2 separate regions of the Homo sapiens genome follow, and region 2 is linked to region 1. Evidence: fine-mapped QTL for protein levels in blood plasma. Region 1 holds a variant in brackets. A gene starts in the other region. All regions are shown on their reverse strands.

Region 1 (8,000 bases):
TTGTAATATTTTATTTCTTAAAGGAAAAAATATCTAATATGGGATAAGGTTCACACTTGATAAATCTGGCTGATTATCACATGGAGGTCTGTTATATTAATTTTTACATATTTGAAATATTTTCATATAAAAAAAAGAACGAGGGCCAGGCACAGTGGTTCACACCAGTAATCCCAGCACTTTGGGAGGCCAAGGCAGGTAGATTGATTGAGTTCAGGAGCTCGAGACCTGCCTGACCAAAATGGTCTCTACTAAAAAATACAAAAATTAGCCGAGCGTGGTGGCACATGTCTGTAGTCCCAGCAAATCGGGAGGCTGAGGCAGGAGAATTGCTTGAACCCGGGATGCAGAGGTTGCAGTGAGCCGAGATCGTGCCACTGCACTCCAGCCTGGGTGACAGAGCGAGTCTCCATTTCAAGGAAAAAAAAAAAAAGGAATGGAGATTGAAGAAATATAAATTCAGAAGCTAAATAATGAAAGATTAATACACTCACATAAAGTTTAAGTGAGATACAGAGAGCAAGTGAGCAAGCTCATACTTAAAAGAGTAAAAAACTAAGAAGTGCATTTGCAAGATGTACATATATTAACTTATCAGTTAATTCCCTTAGCCTATAACATACTCATGCAAGTCTACCCCCCACTCCCCAAACAATGAAGGAACATAATTTAAAAATAAGCTAAGGCTATGAATATATACTTTACTGTAGAGAAATATAAATGGCACATAAGACATTTATCTACATTTAAAACTTCCGGTGTGGTTGAGATACCATTTTTCACAAATAGTAACAGCAAAAAACAAGGGTCCTGAGCTACACAGTGCTGGGGGAGTGTGGGAAGCAGGACCTCTCACAGATGTATGCTGGAAGTGAAAACCAGGCCACCTTCTGGGAAGACATTTCACAATATTTATCAAAATACCCTTTACCCCGGGGCTTCCGTGCCAGAAGCTTATTCCACAGAAAAGTTTCCTATATTTGCAAAGAGACTTGTCTGTTAGGATCTTTACTGCAGCACTTTTTCTAACAGCATAAGATGGAAACATGAAATCTATGCACAGGCACCTGTTTTAAAAAATTAGGCACACACAACGAAACACTATGCAGCTGTGAAAAATAGGATGCAAATCGATGCATGCTGATGTCAACTGATCTCCAAAGCATAATATTAAGATGTAAAAGGCAGGTGTAAAACAGTGATCTCCAAATGCACTTTCACAAAAGAATTACATGCATATTCAGATACATCTTATGTGAATAGAGTACTCAGAAGGATGCAAAACAAGGCTATTGCCTCTCAAGAGGGCGGGTGGGAGAGTGACTTTCTCTCATATTCCCATTTGTACTGCTTAACTGTTTCAAACTGATGAGTGTGATACATTTTGAAGTAATAATTTGATTAAAATAAAAAAAAGGAAGAAGAAAAAATAAGGAATGTAAATGTTGAAGTCTCACACTTGGACCTGAATTCTGGACCAACCATCACTTCTGGGAGTGTGAATGACCTTTCCGGGTCTCAGGTTTTCCACTGGGTAAATAGGGATTTTAAAAAATGGCACTATCAGCCAGCACGGTGGCTCATGCCTATAGTCCCAGCACTTTGGGAGGCCAGGCGAGCGGATCACCTGAGGTCAGGAGATCGAGACCAGCCTGGCCAACATGGGGAAACCCTATCTTTACTAAAAATACAAAAATTAGCAGGGCGTGGTGGCACACACGTGTAATCCCAGCTACTCGGGAGGCTGAGGCATGAGAATCGCTTGAATCCAGGAGGCCGAGGTTGCAGTGAGCCGAGATCACACCACTGTGCTCCAGCCTGGGCGACAAGAGTAAAACTCTGCCTCCCCCCCCCAAAAAAAAGAGAGAGAGAGAAAGAAAAAGGCACTATCTTGAAGGGAGGTTGCTTGAGCAAACAACGTACCTCCAAAGACAATTACTGAAATGGAAGCAGCTGATCTCAAGCCCTAGAACACGCATCACCTGTGCCTCTCACTGACTAGCCCTACTTGCCCTCCTTGTGTCCTACCCTGAGGACAGAAACAGCAGGTGGCAGAGCACCAGCCACAGTATGCACCCTGGGCAATCACGGCCTGGCCAGGGTGGCAAGTGAGGCTGGGCTCCAGCCCTCCCCCTACTTGCCAAACTGTATGCTCTGGTGCAGGGCTTCTCCAACGGGGTGGGGGAGGGGTGTGTGTGTTACCGTTCCTAATTTACAGGAAAGTGCTGTAGAGATTAGCAGCAACACCATTCAGAGCAGCTAACTTCCTCCTCTCCTCTCCAAGTTAAAACAGTGGGGTGCAAAGATCTGAGCGTGCAAAGGCCTGGGCATCGCCAGAAGCACCCCAGGGGAAGCTGGCAGAGCCACCCACCAGTGTTTGTCTTTCTCCATGCCATTTCCCCTGTACTCACAAGGATACCCTTCTCATGAGCAGGTGTGGCTTCTGTAGAGCTGGCTCCAGCCACCTTTTGTCCAGCTGTACCCACTTCCTAATTCCGGCACAGCTGGCCAGCCCTCTCTAAAGTGAGGTCACCCACAGGACTAACCTGTGTCCCAGGAGAGCCACGGAGGTCACATCACTCCTTCCCTACTTGTTCCACAGAAGGGCTGACGGAATAATACCCCTGTCCCAGCGCAGGCTGGGGACCCCAAGGCCTCCCCAGACTGTGAGGCTGGACAAGTCAGCAGAAACAGGAGCCACAGGGCCTGAGGGCCGACTGCGAGCAGGTGACTGACTTGGACACTGTGGCATGGCAGAATCTGGGATTTCTTTTTAGTAGAGATGGGGTTTCACCATATTGGCCAGGCTGGTCACTGACTCCTGATGTCAGGTAATCCTGTCTCAGCCTCCCCAAGTGCTGGGATTACAGGCATGAGCCACCACACCTGGCCCTGGATTCACTTTTAAAAATCATCCCTGGGGCTGTGCTGCAGGTGCTGTGCATAATCTTTTTTTTTTTTTTTGTGAGACAGTCTCACTCTGTGGTCCAGACTGGAGTTCAGTGGCGTGATCTTGGCTCACTGCAACCTCCACCTCCTGAATTCAAAGGATTCTCCTGCTCAGCCTCCCAAGTAGCTGGGATCACAGGCGCGCGCCATTATGTCCAGCTAATTGTTGTACTTTTAGTAGAGATGGGGTTTCACCATGTTGACCAGGCTGGTCTCAAAATCCTGACCTCAAGTGATCCACCTGCCTTGGCCTCCCAAAGTGCTGGGATTACTGGTGTGAGCCACCACACCCGGCCTGCTATGCATAATCTTATTGAAGTTTTCAACCAATGGATGTGGGATTACTCTTTCATTCTCATTTACAGATGGGGAAACTGAGGCACAGAGCAAATACATTAAGGGTCCCAAGATCAGAGAGCTCAAAAATGGTGGAACCAGGATTTAAAATTCAGCCAGAACTACTTTTAATCCCTACACTCTATGCACCTCAGATCTTCAGAGTCCTCGTCTTTTAAATGGGGGTAACAGCAGCAAGTCCTCAGAGGTGTCCTGAGCCTCAAAACACATCCTGGTTTGTAACGTCCGCAGCCTCAGCAGGGGCTAGGCACAGAACAAGCATTCAGGACCTGGAAGGTACCAGCGACACCTGGTCCTCCCTTCCCAGGCACAAGGCAGCCCCTCTCCATTCAAGCTCTGCCCCAGCCCAGCAAAGAGAGGGGTCCTCAGCCACTGCCCCCACCACTACCACAATCATACTCACCTCTCCTGGTCCATA[C/T]GTGACAAAGGACCTGCCACGGCCAGGGAGACAGGCAGAGGCACTGCCACTCCCACTCTGCCCTGCCCTCGACTCAGATTCACCCATGGCCCAGCCTCAGGAGACGCTGCTGGGGTGTGGTGGCATGCAGAAGGGGAGGGGGAGGAGGCCTCTAGGGAGGTGGCTTTCCATCTGTCTGTCTGGGTGTAGCACCTCCTGGAGTTGGTGCCAGGCCCTGACCAGTTCCGCCCCATTCAGCCTTCCCAGAAGGGCTGGCACACGGATCCCTCAGCCTGACCAGACACCAGCCTCCTGTCATGAGCGGTGCTCCATCTCCACCACGGTGCCCCCTACAGGCAGGCCCCCCACACCTGAGCAGAGTCCACTTCCAGAACAGTGCTCCCTCTGCAGATGACACACTCTATCCAAACCCAGTACCCCAAAATCCCCAAGCAGGGACAGCAAAGGCAACGTTCAGCCCTGCAGGTGCCACAAATTCCAGCCCTGCCCCACAGTACAGCCTCTGAATTCAGGCTCTCGGCTCTGCTTTTAAGAGTTTTGGAGCAGTGGTTTCTGCGCTCACCCTGCCTCCTCCCGGAAGGAACCCTCACTCGGCAGACCTTGCACTCCCGCCTCCCCTCACCAGAACATCTGCTGGGCACTGAGACGGACACCATGGTCAGCCTGGTGCTTGATGAACAAGGATGTTTCCAGACCTGTGCAGCTGAGGGTTCGAGGGTCCACACCTGAAGTCTCATTAGGAGCCAGCAGGGTTAAAGGGGCTGAGCGAGTGAGAGGCAGACTCGCCAGAGGGGAGGGCCCTGCACACGGGAAGGAGAGTGGAACAGGGCCCCCAGATGAGGACTCAATGAAGACGTGGGAAGCGGGGTGAGGAAAGCAAGCCCCACCCCTCCCCATGTCAGTAACCTACACAGGCTTCTCCAGCACAAACACATTGGTCCCTACTCAGACACCCGGGAACCAGATCACACAGACACAGGCATGCGCACACACACACCCAGCTCTCAGTCCTCCTCCTCTCTGCACGCCCCCACCACCCCATGCCCACATACAGCTTCCAGGGCTTGAGGGGCTCCCCCAGCCAGGGCACTCTCTTCCTCCATTCCTCAGGGCTGGCCGTGGGCCGGGCTCAGCTACAGCAGCTGCTGCTGCTTTACCTCCCCCAGGCCCACTGGGTTCCTCCCACCCCAGCTCTGGCTCGTATAGACTTTGTTTGTCAGCTTGCAGGTCCCTGGGAGCTATCACCAGGCAGCCCGGAGCCTCTAAGGGGCAGGGAGTGGCTGTGCCAGCCCTCAGGAACCTCGTTCCTCCAAAGTCACGGAAAGGGGAATCCTGGGCTCCTCGCCCTCTGCCCAGCCAGGCTCAGCTCCCAGAAAGATTCTGGCACCTGAGAGGAGACCCAGCCACGCCTATGAGCCCCACAGGTGTGTCCCCAGCAGGCCTGGAGAGTGTCCCAGGGCAGCCTGTGGCCATTTGGCCGAGGGTACTGCAGAGCCTGCTGCCCCATGGAGGGCACTTCCTGGCCCGGCGCCCACACAACACACACTCACTGTCCTCTGGGCCCGTCTCAGCCTCTCTGCACCTGTGCCCAGTCCCAGTGACAGGGACTGTCCTCTCAGCCCACCCGGCACCCAAATCCAGGAACCTGCAAGGCCTTCCTCCAGCTGCCCCACCAGCCTGCTCACACTTTCTGGGCTCAAGCCCTGAGGCTTTAGCAATTTCAGGGTCATCTGCACCCATAACTGGGAGGGTGATGGGAGGGACAGATACCGGCCTGTCAGGGCCTGGTCACTACCTGGGGACAGAGGATTCCAGAGCCTACAACTGGTTCAACAGGTCTGGGCTATGGCCCACACCCACCTCTGCACACAGAAGCCAGCCCAGGGTCCCATGGAATATCCCAGGGCAGAGACACTAAATCAACTGAAGGCGATGCCAGGGGTCATGCCAAGTGCCTGAACTCTGGCTTCTCCATCATCTGTGAGGCCCCAACACCATGCCCTGCGTAATCTAAGGTCCTGGCCAGCGCCTCCTCCTCCTCCCAGCCCTGAGGAACCATCCTTGTCCTCAAGGTGGAAGAGCTCGGCCCTCAGTCCCCTGCAGCCTGGGATGAGCCCCACCCTCAGGGCTGGTGCACAACCAGAGGCTCTTCCCAAGGAAGCCTGGTGCCAGAAAACCCACACACTGAGGCACAGGCCAGACACAGAGCCTGGGAACACCCAGGAGAGCATGTCCCCCAGGGTCCCAGCCCCAACCGAAGCTGGGAGAGCCCAGAACCACCCGCCACCCAGTCCTCCTGGCCGCCCCTGCATGGCTGTTTCCTCCTGCCCAGGAGGAGCTGAAGGGATCTCAGCCCAGGACGTGATCCTCCCACCCCCACCCCCGAGAACACACCCAGGACTGGCAGCTCACCTGACCCTGCAGGGCTGCCAGTCCAGCTGTGCCCCAAAGAGAACATTCACTTCTTGCTCTATTTGGACAGCTGCAGGGTCAGCGATGCTCAGGAGAGAACGTCTGGTCACAGAGTGGGGAGTGCGGTGATCAGGGCCACAGGCCCTCTGATGGGGGTGGGCCAAGGCCAGAGCTGCATCCCTGGATGAGTGGGCTGAGAGGGGGCCCGGGACCAGCCTGGCAGGGCACAGGGAAAGGCTGCAGTTATTCTGCCCTCCTGAGCACAAGAGGAGTGGTCAGAGGGATTCTGGAACCAGGGCTGGGGCCTGGGGGAAGGCAATGGAAGCCAGGAGTGAGGGAGGAAATGGATTCCCCTTTTAATGGCATTTATTCAGTTACAGGCTGCGGCCAAGGAACAGCCTCCCACATCCAGCCCAACACCTGACCTCACCTCACCCCAGACAGGTCCCACGGCCCCTCCTCAGCCTATCCAGGACTGGTGGGAAAGGTCCAAAGAAAAGAAGACAAAGCATCCACAAGCAGAAGTCGGTGGCTGGACTCCACCCTCCCCTCCCCAGGAAGCAGGAGGCAGAACTGGGAGGTCAAGACCAGCACTTCCCCCTCCTGCTCCCACCCTCTCCTCCTCTCTGGCCCTCGTCTCCTGCCCTCTCCTCCCGGTCCCTGTGTCCTTTCCAGCCATCCCATCCTGGTGTCTCCTGGTCCCCATCTCCACCTCCTCCTCCTTTCCTCCTCTGCCCACAGCCCCTGGTTATGTAAGGGGCTTGGGAACACACAGAGGGAGCTTTGTTGTCAAACCAAATCCATATGGAGCCGGAATGGGCCAGCGCAGCTGTTCCCCATTCCCTCTGCCTTGGCAGGGTTGGGACTCCGGGCAGGGAGCCCCTGCACCCCGCCATTTTGGGAGATGGGGGACAAACACTTGCCCCAGGGCCGCCAGGCAGCTGAATGAGTGGTCAGGGATCAGTCTCCACTGTGTGGAACCACAGCAGGGGACCAGCTGGTCCCTAAGGCAGAACAAAGCCACAGTACAAAGCGAGGGTCACAAAGCCAACAGAGGCAAGCTCTGGGCTGGGGCAGGGCGACACGGTGCCGGGCCTGGGAGGGTGGGGAGTGTATCCAGACCCTCACACAGAACACTGTTGTGTGCTCACCTCAATGGGGTCTGAGAGTAGAAAACTGTGTTGGCCAACTCCCCTCATTCGAGCAGCTTCCCCTGGGAGAAAGAGCTCAAGAGAGAGGAGGGTGGAGGGTTCAGGTCCCAGGCTAGGGAAGCTTAGTCAGCCCATCTTTGGAGACCCTGAGGCCCCAGAAAGACAAGATCCCACCGTCCTTTGCAGGAAGATGTCCAAAGAGTTGCATGAGGGCTCAGGAGCTGAGCTAAAGATAAAAGCATTGCATACTTTGGGCAGGCACTGTCTCTTCGCCAAACTCAACTCCTGGAAGAGCCATTTTTGTTCGAAAATGCTGGAGCTGCCAACAGGAGGAGCTGACTCCTGCTCCCATGGGCTCCCAATGAAGGCTCTCCTGAACATTCCCGGCCTCCAGGCAACCCAACCCAGCCACCCCCAGAGTCCCAGTTCCACTATGAGGACAACCTGAATGCTGAGGCTGGAGAAAAAAGGCAGATCAGAGAAGCAAGGGCAAGGAGAGAATGCAGAGGAGGCAGAAAGGAAGGAGGAGGGATCACTGAAGATGGTGAGAAATCTAGGGGTGGAAAGAGAAGGCAGACAGAAAGGGATTGAAGAAGAAGAGCACGGCTCAAACAGGGACAGGAAGGAGATGGGGGCAGGAGGTCTAGAGAAACGGCCCACACTGCCTGTGAGGACAATCTCCCATACTCCATCAACACCCGCTCCTCGGCCAG
Region 2 (16,864 bases), not on the chromosome of region 1:
TAGTGAAACCCCATCTCTACAAAAAATACAAAAATTAGCTGGGCATGGTGGTGAGTGCCTGTAGTCCAAGCTACGGGGGAGGCTGGGGTGGGAGGATCCCCTGAGTTTGAGGAGGTTGGGGCTGCAGTGAGCCGAGATCACACCACTACACTCCAGCCTGAGCAGCAGAGTGAGGCCCTGTCTCAAAAAATAAATTAAAATAAAATGAAATAAAATAAAAATGGTTCCTGAAGTGGGTGTTGAAGTCCTGACTTCCCTTGACACGTTTTGGGGGAATATGACAATTACAGATGTGGTGAGGTCAGCTGACTCATTGAATGTCTTGGGTGAAATTTTTCCTATCAATATCTCTGTGATGTTTGAACTTTTTTTTTTTTTTTTTTTGAGACATAGTTTCGCTCTGTCGCCCAGGCTAGAGTGCAGTGGCGCAATTTCAGCTCACTGCAAGCTCTGCCTCCCAGATTGAAGTGATTCTCCCACCTCAGCCTCCCGAGTAGCTGAGATTACAAGTGCCCGCTACCACGTCCAGCTAATTTTTGTATTTTTAGTAGAGACAGGGTTTCACTATGTTGCCCAGGCTGGTCTCAAACTCCTGACCTCAGGTGATCCCCACGGCTCAGCCTCCCAAAGTGTTGTGATTACAGGCGTCAGCCACTGCGCCCGACCTGAACTCATTTTCCCTTGTCATTTGGGTTATCGTTTGTTCTGCTTGTTTTGTTTTTTTGTTTGTTTATTTGTTGAGATGGAATTTCGCTCCTCTTGCCCAGGCTGCAGTGCAATGGCACAATATTGGCTCACAGCAACCTCTGCCTCCCAGGTTCAAGCAATTATCGTGCCTCAGGCTCCCGAGTAGCTGGGATTACAGGCACCTGCCACTATGCCCAGCTAATTTTTTATGTGTTTTTAGTAGAGACTGGGTTTTGCCATGTTGGCCAGGCTGGTCTCAAACTCCTGACCTCAGGTGATCAGCTGACCTCGGCCTCCCAAAGTGCTGGGATTACAGGGGTGAGCCACCGTGCTGGCTTTTTTTTTTTTTTTCTTTTGAGACAGAGTTTTTGCTCTTGCCACCTAGGCTGGAGTGCAATGGCAAGATCTCAGCTCACTGCAACCTCCGCCTCCGGGGTTCAAGCGATTCTCCTGCCTCAGTAACTGGGACTATAGGCACGTGCCACCATGCCCGGCTGATTTTTATATTTTTGGTAGAGGTGGGGTTTCACCATGTTGGCCAGGCTGGTCTTAAACTCCTGGCCTCAGGTGATCCGCCCACCTCAACCTCCCAAAATGCTGGGATTACAGGGGTGAGCCATCACGCCCGGCCTTGTTCTGCTTGTTTTGAATATGGATTTCATCCTGAAGCAGATGTAGAGCAACACAGAGTGGGTGAGACAGTTTTGTCTGTTCAGTTAGTAGGAGGTTTGTTTGTTTGTTTACAGATGGAGTCACCCTATATTACTCAAGCTGGTTTGTAACTCGTGAGCTCAAGCCATCCTTCCATGTCAGCCTCCTAACACTGGGAGGCTGCACAGGGATGCCCTGGTCGGCAGCTAGCTGGGACAACAGGTGCATGCCACACAATCGGCTAACTTTTTTAAATTTATTGTTTATAGAGATGGGGTCTTGCTATGTTGCCCAGGCTGGTCTCAAACTCCTGAGATCAAGTGATTCTCCCACCTCAGCTTCCCAAAGTACTGGGATTACAGGTGTGAGCCACCACACCCAGCCAATTTGTTTTATTTGTAGGAGCACTTTTTCTCCTTCAGACGCTAGATTAAATATCAATGGCATGAAATCAGTAAGACTTACTTGATTGCTTGCATAACAATCAAAATGGCATTTTCTTCAGAATGGACTTTAATATTATTAACTAAGGACCACCGGCCAGGTGCGGTGGCTCATGCCTGTAATCTCAGCACTTTGGGAGGCCAGTGCAGGCGGAGCACATGAGGTCAGGAGTTTGAGACCAGCCTGGGAAATATGGTGACACCTTGTCTCTACTAAAAATACAAAAACTAGCCAGGTGTGGTGGTGGGCGCCTGTAATCCCAGGTACTCAGGAGGCTGAGGCAGGAGAATTGTTTGACCCTGGGAGGCAGAGACTGGAGTGAGCCGAGATCACACCACTGCACTCCAGCCTGAGTGAGAGAGCAAGACTGTGTCTCCAAAAACAATAATAATAATAATAATAATAATTAAGGGTATTTTTAGAAGTTGGATTATCTTCAATATTTAGTCATTAATTTTCTCTTAAAAATTTGGGAAACATTTTGCCTATTCCTCAAAAAATTAAATGTAGAATTACCATTTGCTCCAGCAATTCCACTTGTGGGTATATTCACAAAAGAACTGAAAGCAGTGTCTCAAAGAGATACTTGTACACCCAAGTTCAAGCATCATTATTCACAATAGCCAAAAGGTGGAAACAGGCCAGGAGCAGTGGCTCACACCTGTAATCCCAACACTTTGGGAGGCCGAGGTGGGCGGATCACCTGAGGTCGGGAGTTCTAGACCAGCCTGACCAACATGGAGAAACCCCATCTCTACTAAAAATATTAAAAAATCAGTCTGGCTTGGCGGCAGATGCCTGTAATCCCAGGTACTTGGGAGGCCGAGGCTGGAGAATCGTTTGAACCCCAGAGGCAGAGGTTGCAGTGAGCCGAGATCGAACCACTGCACTCCAGCCTGGGAGACAGAGTGAGACTCCATCTCAAAAAAAAAGAAAAGAAAAAAGAATACACTAAGAAGTGACAGAATATTGGCACAGAGAATATCTTGAGTATTCTAAATATGTATGCCAATACTCCAATAATATCATAATAAAATTGTCATTGGAGTTGGCATGGAAGAAGCCCAGCGTGGCAGGTGGAGTAACAGCCCCACTAGATGTCTATGTCCTAATCCCCAGATCAGTGAGTACATGACCTTACATGGCAAAAAGAGATTTTACAGGTGTGATTAAGTTAATAACGTTGAGGTGGAGAAATTATCCCAGCCCATCCCAGTGGGCCTGATCGAATCATAGGAGTTGGCTTTTAGCAGAAAACCTTTCCCAGCTGTGATTAAGGAGAAATGTGATGATAGATGAAGAGTCAGAGAGATGCAAAGTGAGAATCCAGCCCACCATTGCTGGCTCTGCAGATGGAGGAAGGGGCCACAGCCAAGGAATACAGTGGCACATACAAGCTGGGAACAGCCCTCAGCTGACAGCCAATGAGAAAGCCAGGACCTCAGCCCTAAAACACAAGGAGCTGAATTCTGCCAACAACCCGAATGATCAGGAAATACGTTCTTTCCTAGAACATAAATAAAGGAACACAGACAGGGCTAGGAGGCCGAGGCAGGCAGATCACCTGAGGTCAGGAGTTCGAGACTGCCCTCAGCACCCCCTCAGCCTCCCTCCCATGCTCATCAGCGCCCAAAGTCCGGAGATGGCCAGTGTGGCAGGGGACTGGCACGTCAGCACTGCCCCAACACGGGCACACCCAGCCAGGTTCCAACAGCACCTGGTCTCGACCTCAACTTTGCTCTGAAATTGGAGTGGGCGCTGGAAACAGGGAGAAGCCAGGCAGCAGGAGCAGGCGCTTTGAGCCTGTGGGGGCCGGGGGCCTTCCAGGCCCCCCGAGAGCACAGGGATGCCCCGGTCTGCAGCTACAGCTGGGTGGCTGCTGATGTGCCTGGGAAGGCAGGGCTCCCCACCCTGCCAACTCAGAAGGGGCAGGGCTCCCGTCTGTTCCCAGCCCCTCCAGGTCCATGAAGGGCACAGACCCGGCCATGCTTCCCCCACTGCAGCTGGTGTCTTCACAGCGACCACTCCAGACGGGCCACTGCTGCCATCACTGGGACATCCCCCAGCTGTCATCCTTGTAATCCCTCTTGGGTTTCTCCTGATTTGGATTCCCCACATCCTGGATCTCTTGTCTTCCTCCTCCTCAGTTTACACCTTGTTTAGGTGAAACACATCTTCCAGTAATCTGGCCAGGTTAAAGAGCTAGTGCAATGACAGCACAATCACGACAGTCCCAGCTTTCCTATCTCTTGAGTCACAGTGTCACAATGAGCACTGACTGCCCTCTAGACTTGGCGCACAGTTATCCTTCCAGAATGTCCCTCACCATCAGCCTCAAGCTTTCCTTCAGTACTCCGCCATGTTCCACGTCTGCATTTCACAGACCACAGCTTGTGCTTTCTTGATTTTTTACTCTTTTAGCTGAAGAGCATCTTTCCTCTGGTGGTTTTCCAACAATCACGCATAGGGAGTACATTTTTTTCTCTTTTGTAGAGATGGGGTCTCACTGTGTTGCCCAGGCTGGTCTCCAACTCCTGAACTCAAGGATTCCTTCTGTCTCAGTCTCCCAAAGTGTTTCAATTACAGTCATGAGCCACCATGCCTGGCCAAATGTTCTGAGAACTTTCAAGCATGAAAATGTCTGGTTTTATTTATTTATTTATTTATTATTTTTTATTTTTTAGAGTCAGGGCTGCCACGGTGGCTCACGCCTATAATCCCAGCACTTTGGGAGGCCGAGGTGGAGAGATCAGGAGGTCAGGAGTTTGAGACCAGCCTGGCCAACATGGCGAAACCCCATCTCTACTGAAATACAAAAAATAAAAAATAAAAAAAGAAAGAAAAAGAAAAAGAAGTTACCTGGGCATGGCTGTGCCTGCCTGTAATCCCAGCTACTCAGAAGGCTGAGACAGGAGAATCGCTTGAACACAGGAGGCGAAGGTTGCAGTGAGCGGAGATCACACCACTGCAGTCCAGCCTGGGAGGCGATAGAGTGAAACTCTGTCTCAAAGAAAAAAAAAGAGTCTTGCTGTGTCGCCCAAGCTGTAGTGCAATGATGCAACCTCAACTCACTGCAATCTCTGCCTCCCAGGTTCAAGTGATTCTCCTGCGTCAGCCTCCCCAGTAGCTGGGATTACAGATGTGTGCCACCATGCCTGGCTAATTTTTGTATTTTTAGTAGAGACGGGGTTTCACCACAATGGCCAGGCTGGTCTTGAACTCCTGGACTCGAGTGATTGCCTGCCTCGGCCTCCCAAAGTGCTGGGATTAGAGGTGTGAGCCACCACACCTGGCCAAAAATGTCTGTATTTCACTTTCACACCTGACTGAGAGTGTGTGGCTATTGCTGCTTACTGACCAGCACCCTTCCCTCTTCCTTTCACCATGCCCAGCCATGACTTCTAACCTTAGAAAACTGTCCCCCTTCCAGAGAGTTGATAAATGTCCAATTCAATTTTTTTTTTTGAGACAGAGTCTCGCTCTGCCACCAGGCTGAAGTGCAGTGGCGCGATCTCGGCTCACTACAACCTCTGACTCACAGGCATGAGCCATGGCACCCCGCCCCAATTCTATTTTTGAAGGGAGGGACTGATTATTTTAAAAACATGGCCGGGCATGGTGGCTCATGCCTGTAATCCCAGCACTTTGGGAGGCCGAGGCGGGTGGATCACCTGAGGTCAGGAGTTCGAGACTAGCCTGGCCAACATGGCGAAACTCCATCTCTACTAAAAATACAAAAATTAGCTGGGCATGGTGGCACAGGCCTGTAATCCCAGCTACTAGCGGGGCTGAGGCAGGAGAATCGCTTGAACCTGGAAGGCAGAGGTTGCAGCGAGCCGAGATCGTGCCACTGCACTCCAGCCTGGGAAACAGAGCGAGACTGTGTCTCAAAAAACAAAACAAAACAAAACAAAACAAAACAAAACATAAAAATCTTTCTGGATTGTAATGCCCTCTTCATTTGTTTGGTGGGTGGTATGAGGAAGGGGCCCATTCTCAGCCCTGGGTCCGTGGGCTCCAGGTACAGGGACATGGAGGCGAGGTCTGGGTTCCCGATCCTCTAATCGCTGGCGTGGCTGTGCCTTGTTCTTCAGGAGCCCAAGTTTCCCTGGCGTCCTCGCTTTCTGATCTGCATCTTTTTTTTTTTTTTTTTTTTTTTTGAGACAGAGTCTCGCTCTGTCACCCAGGCTGGAGTGCAGTGGCGAGATCTTGGCTCACCGCAAGCTCCGCCTCCCGGGTTCAGGCCATTCTCCTGCCTCAGCCTCCAGAGTAGCTGGGTCTACAGGCGCCCACCACCGCGCCCAGCTAATTTTTTGTATTTTTAGTAGAGACAGGATTTTACCGTGTTAGCCAGGACGGTCTTGATCTCCTGACCTCGTGATCCGCCTGCCTCGGCCTCCCAAAGTGCTGGGATTACAGGCGTGAGCCACTGCACCTGGCCCTGATCTGCATCTTGACTTTTGTCACTTTCTTGATTTTAAGGCAGAGACACCCTTAGAGGAATGGGCTTAAAAGGAGGGTTGGGGAGCAGACACCAAGGAACACACAGAAAGGTGCCAAGAGGAAATAGTTACCTGCGAGGCTCTAAGACTGCCTCTGAGATCCCATCAGTGACCTGACCATAGGGTGCTGGAGAAATGTGGTCACCCAGACACTTTGAAACACTTTCCGTGGTTGATAATTATTATTCTCCTTTTTTTTTTTTTTTTTTTGAGACAGGGTCTCACTGTCTCCCAGGCTGGAGTGCAGTGTTGCAATCTCGTGTCATTGCCATCTCCGCCTCCCGAGTTCAAGTGATTCTCCTGCCTCAGCCTCCTGAGTAGCTAGGATCACAGGTGCCCGCCACCAAGCCCGGCTAATTTTGTATTTTAGTAGAGACGGGGTTTCACCATGTTGGCCATGCTGGTCTCGAACTCCTGACCTCAGGTGATCTGCCTGCCTTGGCCTCCCAAAGTGCTGGGATTCCCGGTGTGAGCCACTGCACCCAGCCCGTCGCGGTTTATAATTAGAGATTTCTCTGCTAAATGATGTTCTCTCTCTCACACTGAGGTGAGGTCTGTTTGGGTCACCTTTGTATTCCCCAAACCGGGGACAGTATTGGGCTCAAATCTGCTCAGAAATGACTGACTGACTGAATGAATAAATCAATACATGAATGAATACGTTTGGAGTCCCCTCTTCCCACTCCTCGCCCTCCCTCCTTCCCTCCAGACCCCCAGGGGCTGCCCAGCCCGCCTCCCACCCCCGACCCGGGAACTCCAGGGACTGGACGGGGAGGGAAGGGTGGGAGGAGGCGGTGGAGGCGGAGGCGGAGACGCGGGAGGGCGGGGCTAGGGAGGGCGATGCGGGGAGCCGGAGCCCGGACCATGAGGCTGGGAGCGCCCCTTCTGCACCCCTGGCCGCCCGCGCCGCGCCCCGCGCCCACCAGAGGGCAGCACCACGACGCGCGCGGACAAGGCTGAGGCGGGAACGGCCGCACCCCCAGCCCCGCCCGGAGCCGCCCGGCCCCGCCCCGCCCGCGAGTACCGACCCCCGGCGCCGGCGGGGAAACAGGTCCGGCGCCCCCGACCCCACGGCCCGGCCCCACTCTGTCTCTGACGTCAGCGCCGTGCCCCAAATAACTTCCTCCCCGAGCCTCTTCCGCCGCGGCGCCGCGCCCAGAGCCAGGCGGGGACACCGAAACGGTAACCCCGGCCCGGCCTTCCCGGAGCCGCTTCCGCCCCGCCTGGTGCCAGGAAGCCCCCGCCCCTTCCAAGGGATGGCAGCCGGGGCCCGGGTCGGCCGCCTGGGCCGCGCTGGCGCGCGCCTGAGGAACTTCTGGGGCCTGCTGTCCCGGGAGGAGGGTCGCTGCGGCCAACTCCGGACCCCGCCCCATGTCCCATCGCCTCCCCTGCCCTCGGCCCCGCAAACACCCCTGGCCTTGACTTTCCCACCAGCGCGGCCCAGCCCCACTGTGTTCCATCGGCGCTCAATAAAATACTGAATGAGGCCGGGCGCGGTGGCTCACCCCTGTAATCCCAGCGCTTTGGGAGGCCGAGGAGGGCGGATCACGAGGTCAGGAGATCGAGACTAGCCTGGCCAACACGGTTAAACCCCGTCTCTACTAAAAATACAAAAAATTAGCCGGGCGTGGTGGCACCTGCCTGTAATCCCAGCTACTCAGGAGGCTGAGGCAGGAGAATGGCTTGAACCTGGGAGACGGAGCTTGCAGTGAGCCGAGATTGCGCTCCAGCCTGGGCGACAGAGCGAGACTCTGTCTCAAAAAATTAAAAAAAATAATAATAATAATAATGAATGAAGCTGGACGGACTTCGCGTGCACCGCGGTCAGCTCGGGGTCTGCTGGGGGGTCTGGGTCAGCTCAGGGTCCAGGAACCGAGGCCAACGGCACCCCGTGCTGCGCTGGGGTGAGGGGTCTGCCCTGGGGTCTCGGGGTTCAGGGCTAGGTCACGGAGGAGTCGGCTCTGGGCGCTTCCTTCCTGAGGAGAGGAGCTGGGCAGGCCGGGCCGACGGGTTGGGCCGCATAGCCGGGCCTGTGCTCATCTCCAGCATAAAACTCCACTTCATGGAGCCTGCACCTCGCTCGTGCTCCAACGCTTCTGCCACCGCCGACCACGGCCCTGCGCCCCAGCCAGGCCTGAGGACATGAGGCGGCCGGCGGCGGTGCCGCTCCTGCTGCTGCTGTGTTTTGGTGAGTCGTGAAGGTGCAGGGTCCTGGTGGTGCAGTCCCCCACCAGGCTCCGCTGCACTGCCTGGGGCTCCGGCTCAGCCCCCTACTCCCTGGGACAGGCTGGGGCTGTGGGACAGGCCATCATCCCTCCTGCCCCTGAGCAGGTGGGAAGGCTCCAGATGTGCCAAGTGGGGAGTCCAAAGTGGGGAGGCAGGGTGGGAGGTGTGCGCACAGGCCCCAGAGGACCCCACCGGCATAACTGGGCAGCACCTCCTCCCATGCCTCTCCGCGGGCACTGGTGTGCCAGCTCTGGCCAGGCTCCCTGCTTCCTGCCACCTCGGCCTCTCCCCCCATTCTCTAGGTGAGGACAGGGGCCTCCTACGTGCAGGATGTGAACTCAGGCTCCAAGTGCCTGGACCATCATACTCGGGGTGGGAGGGTGGCCGAGCCGAGGGCTGCTGCCTGTGCCCGGAAGCCCCAGCAGGCTGGCTGCAGGCTCAGTAGAGAGCTGGGGGCAGGGGGTGTAGGTGGCAGAGGGCCCTGTCTCCTGCTGACAGAGGAACCGGTGATGCGCCACCGTGCCCTCTCCCAGTCCTGGGTCAGGGACAGCAGGTGCCAGCCAGGGGGCCCCACCTGCCAGGCCCCTCCCTGCGGGCCGGGACACTCTCTGTCAGGGAAAACCTCTCACATTCCTGGGCTAGCCTAGCCAGTCTGGCAGCCACCACACTTCCCTGTCCTCAAGTCACCTCCCAGGGCTGGGTCAGGTCATCCCAGGCTGCAGCTTAGCCAGTACTCCAGGCTTCCTTGTTCTCCTGGGTGGGAGGGCACCAGTGGCCCCTCAGTGGCCCGGCCTCCCCCACCCCATGCCCCCAGTCTCCCAGCACAAGGATGGTGCCCTCTGAGCAAGCCATGTGCACAGGAGGTGGAAGGCTGTGACTGCCCCTGAGCGGGGTGAGGAACCAAGGTCATTGCCAAAACTCTTTGGCAATGAGTTTTGCAGTCGGTTCACTAACAGCTGTGACCAGAGGCTGGACTCCTGGACACGTCCTCACTCCCAGCCCGAGGGTGGCACTCCCACCAGGTCTCTGGCTGGTGGTACCCACTAAGCTTCACCATCCCCACCAGCTACCAGCGAATCACAGGCCCAGGCCCCAAACAATGCTCCTGACACCCCCGGCACCCCTGGCTGTTGCTTCCAGCCCCCACAGGGCGCCCACCCTGAAGGGCTCAGCTGTCCACATCCCCCATTTCCCATCAGCCCCCACAGCCACACTTGTGTCCATCCACACATTCCCTGAGATCAGGCCCCCCAGATGCAGCCCTTGCCTTCTCGGAGCTCCTGGGCTAAGATAAGACTTGATTCTGGCTCCAGGGTGATGTAGACAGAGCTCCCATCAGGACAGAGAGCTCAAGAGAGAGTATAGGGCTTCCAAGGTAGACAATGCAAGCAAGCAAGGAAGGCTTCCTGGAGGAGGCAGCATTCAGTTGGGCCTTGATCTCTAGATCACGATTAGGACTTGGCTGGGAGCGGTGGCTCACGCCTGTAATGCCAGCACTTTGGGAGGCCGAGGTGGGCGGATCACGGGGCCAGGAGATCGAGACTATCCTGGCAAACATGGTGAAACCCCTCTCTACTAAAAATACAAAAAAATTAGCCGGGCTTGGTGGCGGGCCCCTGTAGTCCCAGCTACTCGGGAGGCTGAGGCAGGAGAATGGCGTGAACCCAGGAGGCGGAGCTTGCAGTGAGCTGAGATCGCGCCACTGCACTCCAGGCTGGGCAACAGAGTGAGACTCCATCTTAAAAAAAAAAAAAAAAAAAAGACTAGGACTTATGGAGACTGGGGGAAGGGCATCCAGATTGTGGGGTGAGGGGAGCAAGCACTCAGAGACCAGAAGACTCTGCCTAAATGAGAAGTACAGGGCTACTTTAGGAAGGAAGGATCTGCATGGGGAGGAGGCATCGCTGAAGGGGCAGTGCTCAGGCAGGGAGCATGGAGACACAGCTCCTGCAGACTCCCAGAGAGCGAGAAGGCCTGACAGTGCGCGCCCTTCTGCAAGCAGGATCCTCAGGCTTGGAAGGAGCAAGGGGTCGGGGGGCCAGGGAATAACCCTCCCGGTAGTGTTTGCATTTTAAAGGGCACTTAATTAGCACAAATTAATGAGCAGAGCATCCAGGGCAGACTCTCCATTTCCCGTTGCCCCTGACCCCGCTTCTGCAGGGCACCCCTTTGCCTGCCCTGCACCTTCTCCACCTCCTCCTCCTGCCCATCCACAGCTGCCCCCTCGCCGCCCGCTGCCTTATCGTCCAGCAACCCCCGGGGTGTCTCTGCCCACCAGTGGTGTTGGGGAGGGTGCCCCCCAGACTGTGAGGCAGACAGAAAGGAAGAGGATGCCGTAAAAACCCTGGGGGTGCTTGGGCCCTCCATGGCCACTTCCTGTCCCCACAGCCCCTCAACTCCAGGGGACTGGTTATCTTTTCCGGGCAGAGTGAAGACATGGTCCATAGCAGCTGGCCCGGGCACCGGAAGGCACTGGGGGTTAAGGGGAAGCTGAGGGCCTAGGTGTGGGGAGGTGGCTGTTCTAACCCCTCCCCAGCTACGGGCGAATCTTGCCCCCACAGAATCAGACGCGTGGAGTGCAGGGGTGGTGAGAGGACTCTCTCAAGGCCAGGAAGTTCCAGGCTTTGCTACCCTGGGGCTGTACACTATGGTCCTGGCTGGGGTCTCCAAGCTGGGGTAGAGGCTCCAGTGTTTGGTTAAAGGCCCAGCAAGAGGCCCTTTGTGTCCTGGGGTGTGGGAGGCAATGGACAGCAGAAAATATGTTCCCATCCTTGGTTCCCCCGAACGACCCCATATCTTGCTTCTCTTCCGGGCCCCTCACTTTATCCGCTCCAAAGCCCCCTTGCACAGCCCAGCAGGGGGTCCTGGGCCTCGTCTGCCAAGCCTGCTGCATGCCTGGGAGAGGGGTCAGCTCTTGGGACTCTGGAATCTTGAGAAGGCTGATCCCTGGTGGCCAATGCAGACCACTGTACCTTCTCTACTCCCCTGAGGCCAGGGAGAAGCCTGTGGGGCTCGGGCCTCAGCCTCGGGACCAAAGTGAGACTTGGGGAAGGAGCTCATTCCGGAGCAGACTGTGAGAGAGCCCTGGGCAGCTCAAATGTAGAGACAGCTCCCGGGCCTCTTCCGCTCTGAGCTGTTCCGGGAGGAAAGGCCAACCTTACAGTGCCAGGGCTGGAGGCTGGACCCTCCCCAGAAACTTCCAGACAAGGATGGGTGTGGAGTGTGGAGGGAGAGGACCCTTTCCAGGATGAGAAGGGGACATCTAGCCTGGGGATCCCTTCACTGGCATCTCCTGACCGGCTCCCCATGTGGCAAGGAGCATCCACCCTTGCAGATAAGCTGTGGCCCATGGGCCTGGGCCTGAGCATACGGCAGAGCCAGCCCTGGGGGGGAAACTGCAGGCCCTTGGGCTCTCCGGTGAGGTCCCTCTGTGGACTGTCCCTCTGGAGTCCTCAGGAGCTGGGGAGGGTCAGTGGAGAGGGGCTGCAGGGTTGGGGAGGGCAGGCCAGGCTGCAGCTGGCCTGGCTGATCACCCTCTCCTCACTTCCAGGGTCTCAGAGGGCCAAGGCAGCAACAGGTAAGCACCCAGGGCCCTGGGGTGGGAGGGACAGGAGCCGGCTGGACTGAGCCAGGGACACTCATGGCCAGAGGGAATTTGGAACGCACAGGACACTGGGGAATTCCAGAGGAGGGGAAAGTGGGGGCTGTGTGGAACTGGAGCCCAGAAAGGAGAGGAGGAGGAAGGTCCACACAAGAGCAGGACGGGCAGCACAGAGCCTTGAGGCGCGGTGCAGGATGAGGGCGGCAGGGTCTGAGGATCACCCTGAACCGTGACTGGCCCCCTCTGGGTGGCTCCCTTGCAGAGGGCTTGACACCTGTTCTATCCTTCCAGGCACCTGTTTGGGTCAGGCCCTGGGACAAGACCCTTCCCTGGGTTATCTCAGTGCCTCCGTGGCCCCCAAGAGGCAGGTGTTAGGTTGCCTTTCTCGGCGAGGAGAGTGAGACTTTGGGGGGCAGCTGGGGAGGGTCTGCCTGTATCCCAGACTGCCCCGAAGCCCAGGCCTCCGACTTCCCCAAGGTCTTCGGGCAGGTCAGGGGCAGGAGGGCCGAGGACTGGAGTGTGAGGCTGAGAGCTGGGCCTCGGCCATGGAACCAGCCCCAGTGAGCGCCCCCACCCGCTCCCCATGCTCCCCCAGCCTGTGGTCGCCCCAGGATGCTGAACCGAATGGTGGGCGGGCAGGACACGCAGGAGGGCGAGTGGCCCTGGCAAGTCAGCATCCAGCGCAACGGAAGCCACTTCTGCGGGGGCAGCCTCATCGCGGAGCAGTGGGTCCTGACGGCTGCGCACTGCTTCCGCAAGTGAGTCCGCCCGCCCCTGCCCCCGCCCATAGCGCTGACAGCGCCCCGCGCGCGACCGGTTCAGCACCGTGGACAGCGCCCGCCGCGCCAAATCCTGCGGGTGACCTCCCTGGGGGCTCCTGGTCCAGCCCCTCCCACCCAGATGCTTCCCTTAGGTCCAACTCCAGGGCTAACTTCCAGTTGCAACCGCTGCTCCCGCCCGCGGGAGGTGCCTCGCACCGCCCCCCGACCCCCTCCATCCCCTCCACCCACTCACCCACTCCCTGTGGGTCCCTGCAGAAGCGGCCCGGCAGGCTCTGCCCACCGGCCCCTCCTGGCCTTTCCCCATCCCGCACACACCTCAGCTCCAGGACACTCTTCCCGGGAGGAACTCTGCTCACAAAGCCCAAGGACCAGACAGAACGGCCCTTCCTCCCCTCACCCACCTGAACCACCCCAGAAAGCCCTGAGCAGAGGCCAGGCCACCCAGCCCTCTGCCATGTATGAACCACCTGGTCCCACACCTTCCGGGTGTCCCAGGCCCCCTCACCTCACACCTCAACACCGCAGCTCTAATTATTTTAAACCCCACATCTTTTTCTTTTTTTTCTTCTTGATCTTTAAAAGAATATCATGACAAAAAAAACCCCACATCTTAAATTCAGATACTCACGGCCAGGCACGGTGGCTCACACCCGTAATCCCAGCACTTTGGGAGGCCAAGGCGGGCAGATCAGTTGAGCCCAGGAGTTCAAGACCAGCCCGGGCAACACAGCAAGACCCTGTCTCTACTAAAAATAAAAAAAAATTAAAAAACAAAAAACAAACAAACAAAAAAACCCCAGGTGCAGTGGTGCCTGTGGTCCCAAGTACTCAGGAAGCTGAGGCGAGAGGATGGCTTGAGCCCAGGAGTTGGAGGCTGCAGTGAGCTACAGTTGCACTGCTGCACTCCAGCCTGGGTGACAGAATGAGAACTCTGTCTCTAGGGGAAAAAAAAAATCGGAAACTCGGGCTGAGAGAGGGCAGGTCACCTGCCAGAGGCCCGCAGGTGGGGCTGGCCCTGCTGCACCTGGAGGGTGGTTCTCTCCGAGCCAGCCTTTCAGGTAGGCACTGTGACTGTCCCCACAGCACAGGTGAGAAAGCTGCATCACAGAGAACTTGTTAAGTGACTTGCCCAAGGCCACACAGCGGCCAGGGGTGGAGGTGGAAATCTGAGTCGGGCGGTCTGGCTTCAATGTCAACACGCATCACCGCTGCACCTGGCTGTCCTAGAGATGACTCTCGAAGACATTGTGCAGAGAGAGGTGTGGGGCACGGTGGTGGCCAGAGGAGCCCCAGCCCCTCCCGGGCCTGTCCCCACACGAGGGGCCGCCTCACGCCGCCTCTCTGTTTCTCCCGCCAGCACCTCTGAGACGTCCCTGTACCAGGTCCTGCTGGGGGCAAGGCAGCTAGTGCAGCCGGGACCACACGCTATGTATGCCCGGGTGAGGCAGGTGGAGAGCAACCCCCTGTACCAGGGCACGGCCTCCAGCGCTGACGTGGCCCTGGTGGAGCTGGAGGCACCAGTGCCCTTCACCAATTACATCCTCCCCGTGTGCCTGCCTGACCCCTCGGTGATCTTTGAGACGGGCATGAACTGCTGGGTCACTGGCTGGGGCAGCCCCAGTGAGGAAGGTAAGGGGACAGGGCTGGGAAAGAATGGGGGATATGCCTCAAGAAGGCCCAGGACGGCTTGGGGACCACTCTGAACCCACAATCTTCCTGTTGCTATATTAATACATACACACGGTCTCTGTTCACACAGGTGGGGCCGAGGGGAGCAGCAGCAGACCCAGAAGGAAGAGGGGGTGAAGGGAGAGGGGGACAGAAAGGGCCCAGCCTGCTGCCTGGAAGGAGGGAGGATGTCTGCCCCACAGTGCCCTAAGCCAGAGATGGTCTAAACATGAGGAAACGACAGGCAGGATGGAGTGGTGGTTCCCGGGGCCGTGGGTTCTTGATGAGGAAGTCCGTTGAGCCCTGGGCTGTTCCGCCCCTCTCCAGACCTCCTGCCCGAACCGCGGATCCTGCAGAAACTCGCTGTGCCCATCATCGACACACCCAAGTGCAACCTGCTCTACAGCAAAGACACCGAGTTTGGCTACCAACCCAAAACCATCAAGAATGACATGCTGTGCGCCGGCTTCGAGGAGGGCAAGAAGGATGCCTGCAAGGTGGGAGCAATGTGGTGTCCATGGGGACTCAGTCCCCACCGCCAGGCCCAGGGCAGGGTGGGATCATGCCCCGCTCCATGGGCTATGCATTCAACCAGCTGAGCAGCTTGTTTTGAAAAGGCAGATTCCAGGGCCGGGTGTGGTGGCTCACGCCTGTAATCCCAGCACTTTGGGAGGCCAAGGAGGGTGGATCACAAGGTCAGGAGATGGAGACCATCCTGGCTAACACAGTGAAACCCCATCTCTACTAAAAATACAAAAAATTAGCCAGGCGTGGTGGTGGGCGCCTGTAGTCCCAGCTACTTGGGAGGCTGAGGCAGGAGAATGGCGCGAACCTGGGAGGCGGAGCTTGCAGTGAGCCGAGATCGCGCCAGTGCACTCCAGCCTGGGCCACAGAGCAAGACTCCGTCTCAATAAAAAAAAAAAAGAAAAAGCAGATTCCTGGACCCCACCCCAGAAGGATCAGAGTCAGTGGGTCTGGGGTGGGGCACAAGAAACTGCATTTTCAACACACACACACACCCTAGTTGATCTGGGGACACTAAAGAATAGGCACTTTAGACAATCGGACTGGCAGGGGATGGGGAGCCGGGCAGAGAGGCTCTGGGATGGAGAGAAGGAATCCATTGCGGAGCTACACACCTCCTGTGCGGCTGCAACTGAGTCTCTGGGAACTCAAGGTGGGCTCTGACGGTGACTCTGCGTCCCCCGCAGGGCGACTCGGGCGGCCCCCTGGTGTGCCTCGTGGGTCAGTCGTGGCTGCAGGCGGGGGTGATCAGCTGGGGTGAGGGCTGTGCCCGCCAGAACCGCCCAGGTGTCTACATCCGTGTCACCGCCCACCACAACTGGATCCATCGGATCATCCCCAAACTGCAGTTCCAGCCAGCGAGGTTGGGCGGCCAGAAGTGAGACCCCCGGGGCCAGGAGCCCCTTGAGCAGAGCTCTGCACCCAGCCTGCCCGCCCACACCATCCTGCTGGTCCTCCCAGCGCTGCTGTTGCACCTGTGAGCCCCACCAGACTCATTTGTAAATAGCGCTCCTTCCTCCCCTCTCAAATACCCTTATTTTATTTATGTTTCTCCCAATAAAAACCCAGCCTGTGTGCCAGCTGCCCACGTGGGGATCCTTGGGGGACCCCGGCGGGTGAGGAGCTGTGAGTTGCAGGATGAAGCCCAGGTGGGAGATGCGGAGTGCTCTGGTCATCTCTGAATCAGCAGAAGGGAGCTGCAGCTGGTGCCCGAGGCGAGGACAGCACCAGAGTATGGGACCCCTGTCACGGGCCCCGCACAGGAGGCCACCTGCTGCCACCTGTGCCTCTGTTCTCTCACCTTAAAGGCCGCCCCAGGGTTGGCACTGGGGACAGCGACGGACACAGGTGGAAAGAGCCTCAGGGCCATGCAGGAGCTGTGCCGGGGCGAGAGGAGGGCATGGAGGGACTGGCTGGGCGGGGGCACCTCAGCCTCCCAAGCCTGCACTTCCGGCTGCCCGTGTCTCGGGGCCACCCAACTTTTCTAAACCACTTCGGCAGGAGTGGGTGCCCACACCTGTGCTTTCCTGCTCCACTGCTCCTGGCACCCTTCGTCTCCCTGTGCCCCGGCGTCTCCCCTTGACCCTTGGCTCCTCTTCCTCCGCCCCATCCCTCAGTCTCCACCCCCATGCAGGAGTCCAGAGCAGTGCGTGGTGGCAAGGGGATTAGGCTGGACATGCACATCACACCCACACGCACCCGTGCACACACACACAGGCACCGTGGCCTGTACAGCGGCAGGAAGAAATCAGGCCCTGAGTGTCCACCAAGGAATCAAA

Alleles and levels. Alleles are on the strand shown, and positions count from the first base shown. The strength of an association depends on the size of the effect and on how common the allele is.
For the plasma level of the protein whose gene starts at base 8,363 in region 2, T is the low allele of the variant in region 1 and C is the other (weak association).

The links. PIP is the posterior inclusion probability: the model's chance that the variant is causal. Protein levels are from antibody-based Olink assays in UK Biobank. Linkage for the fine-mapping came from a reference panel and not from the study's own genotypes, which makes the PIPs less certain.
Region 2: PRSS27 starts here. The variant in region 1 is fine-mapped to the plasma level of the PRSS27 protein (UK Biobank, PIP 0.92).

What each region holds. Positions count from the first base shown.
Region 1 is chr11:126,363,111-126,371,110 of GRCh38, reverse strand. All of the region lies in intron 1 of ST3GAL4 (ST3 beta-galactoside alpha-2,3-sialyltransferase 4), which reads right to left. Among named protein-coding and RNA genes, the nearest start is that of ST3GAL4, 11 kb to the right of the region's middle. RefSeq lists an enhancer at 6,008-6,525. The variant C/T (reference allele first, on the strand shown) is at 3,725.
Region 2 is chr16:2,711,723-2,728,586 of GRCh38, reverse strand. It overlaps PRSS27 (serine protease 27), which reads left to right and starts at 8,363. Exons shown (of 6, transcript NM_031948.5): 1 at 8,363-8,472; 2 at 12,061-12,087; 3 at 12,707-12,869; 4 at 14,251-14,522; 5 at 14,889-15,058; 6 at 15,773-16,165. The coding sequence starts at 8,427. The coding sequence ends at 15,967. RefSeq lists silencers at 5,980-6,149, 6,833-6,902, 7,033-7,792, 12,647-12,696, 12,777-12,826 and 1 more and an enhancer at 7,526-8,093.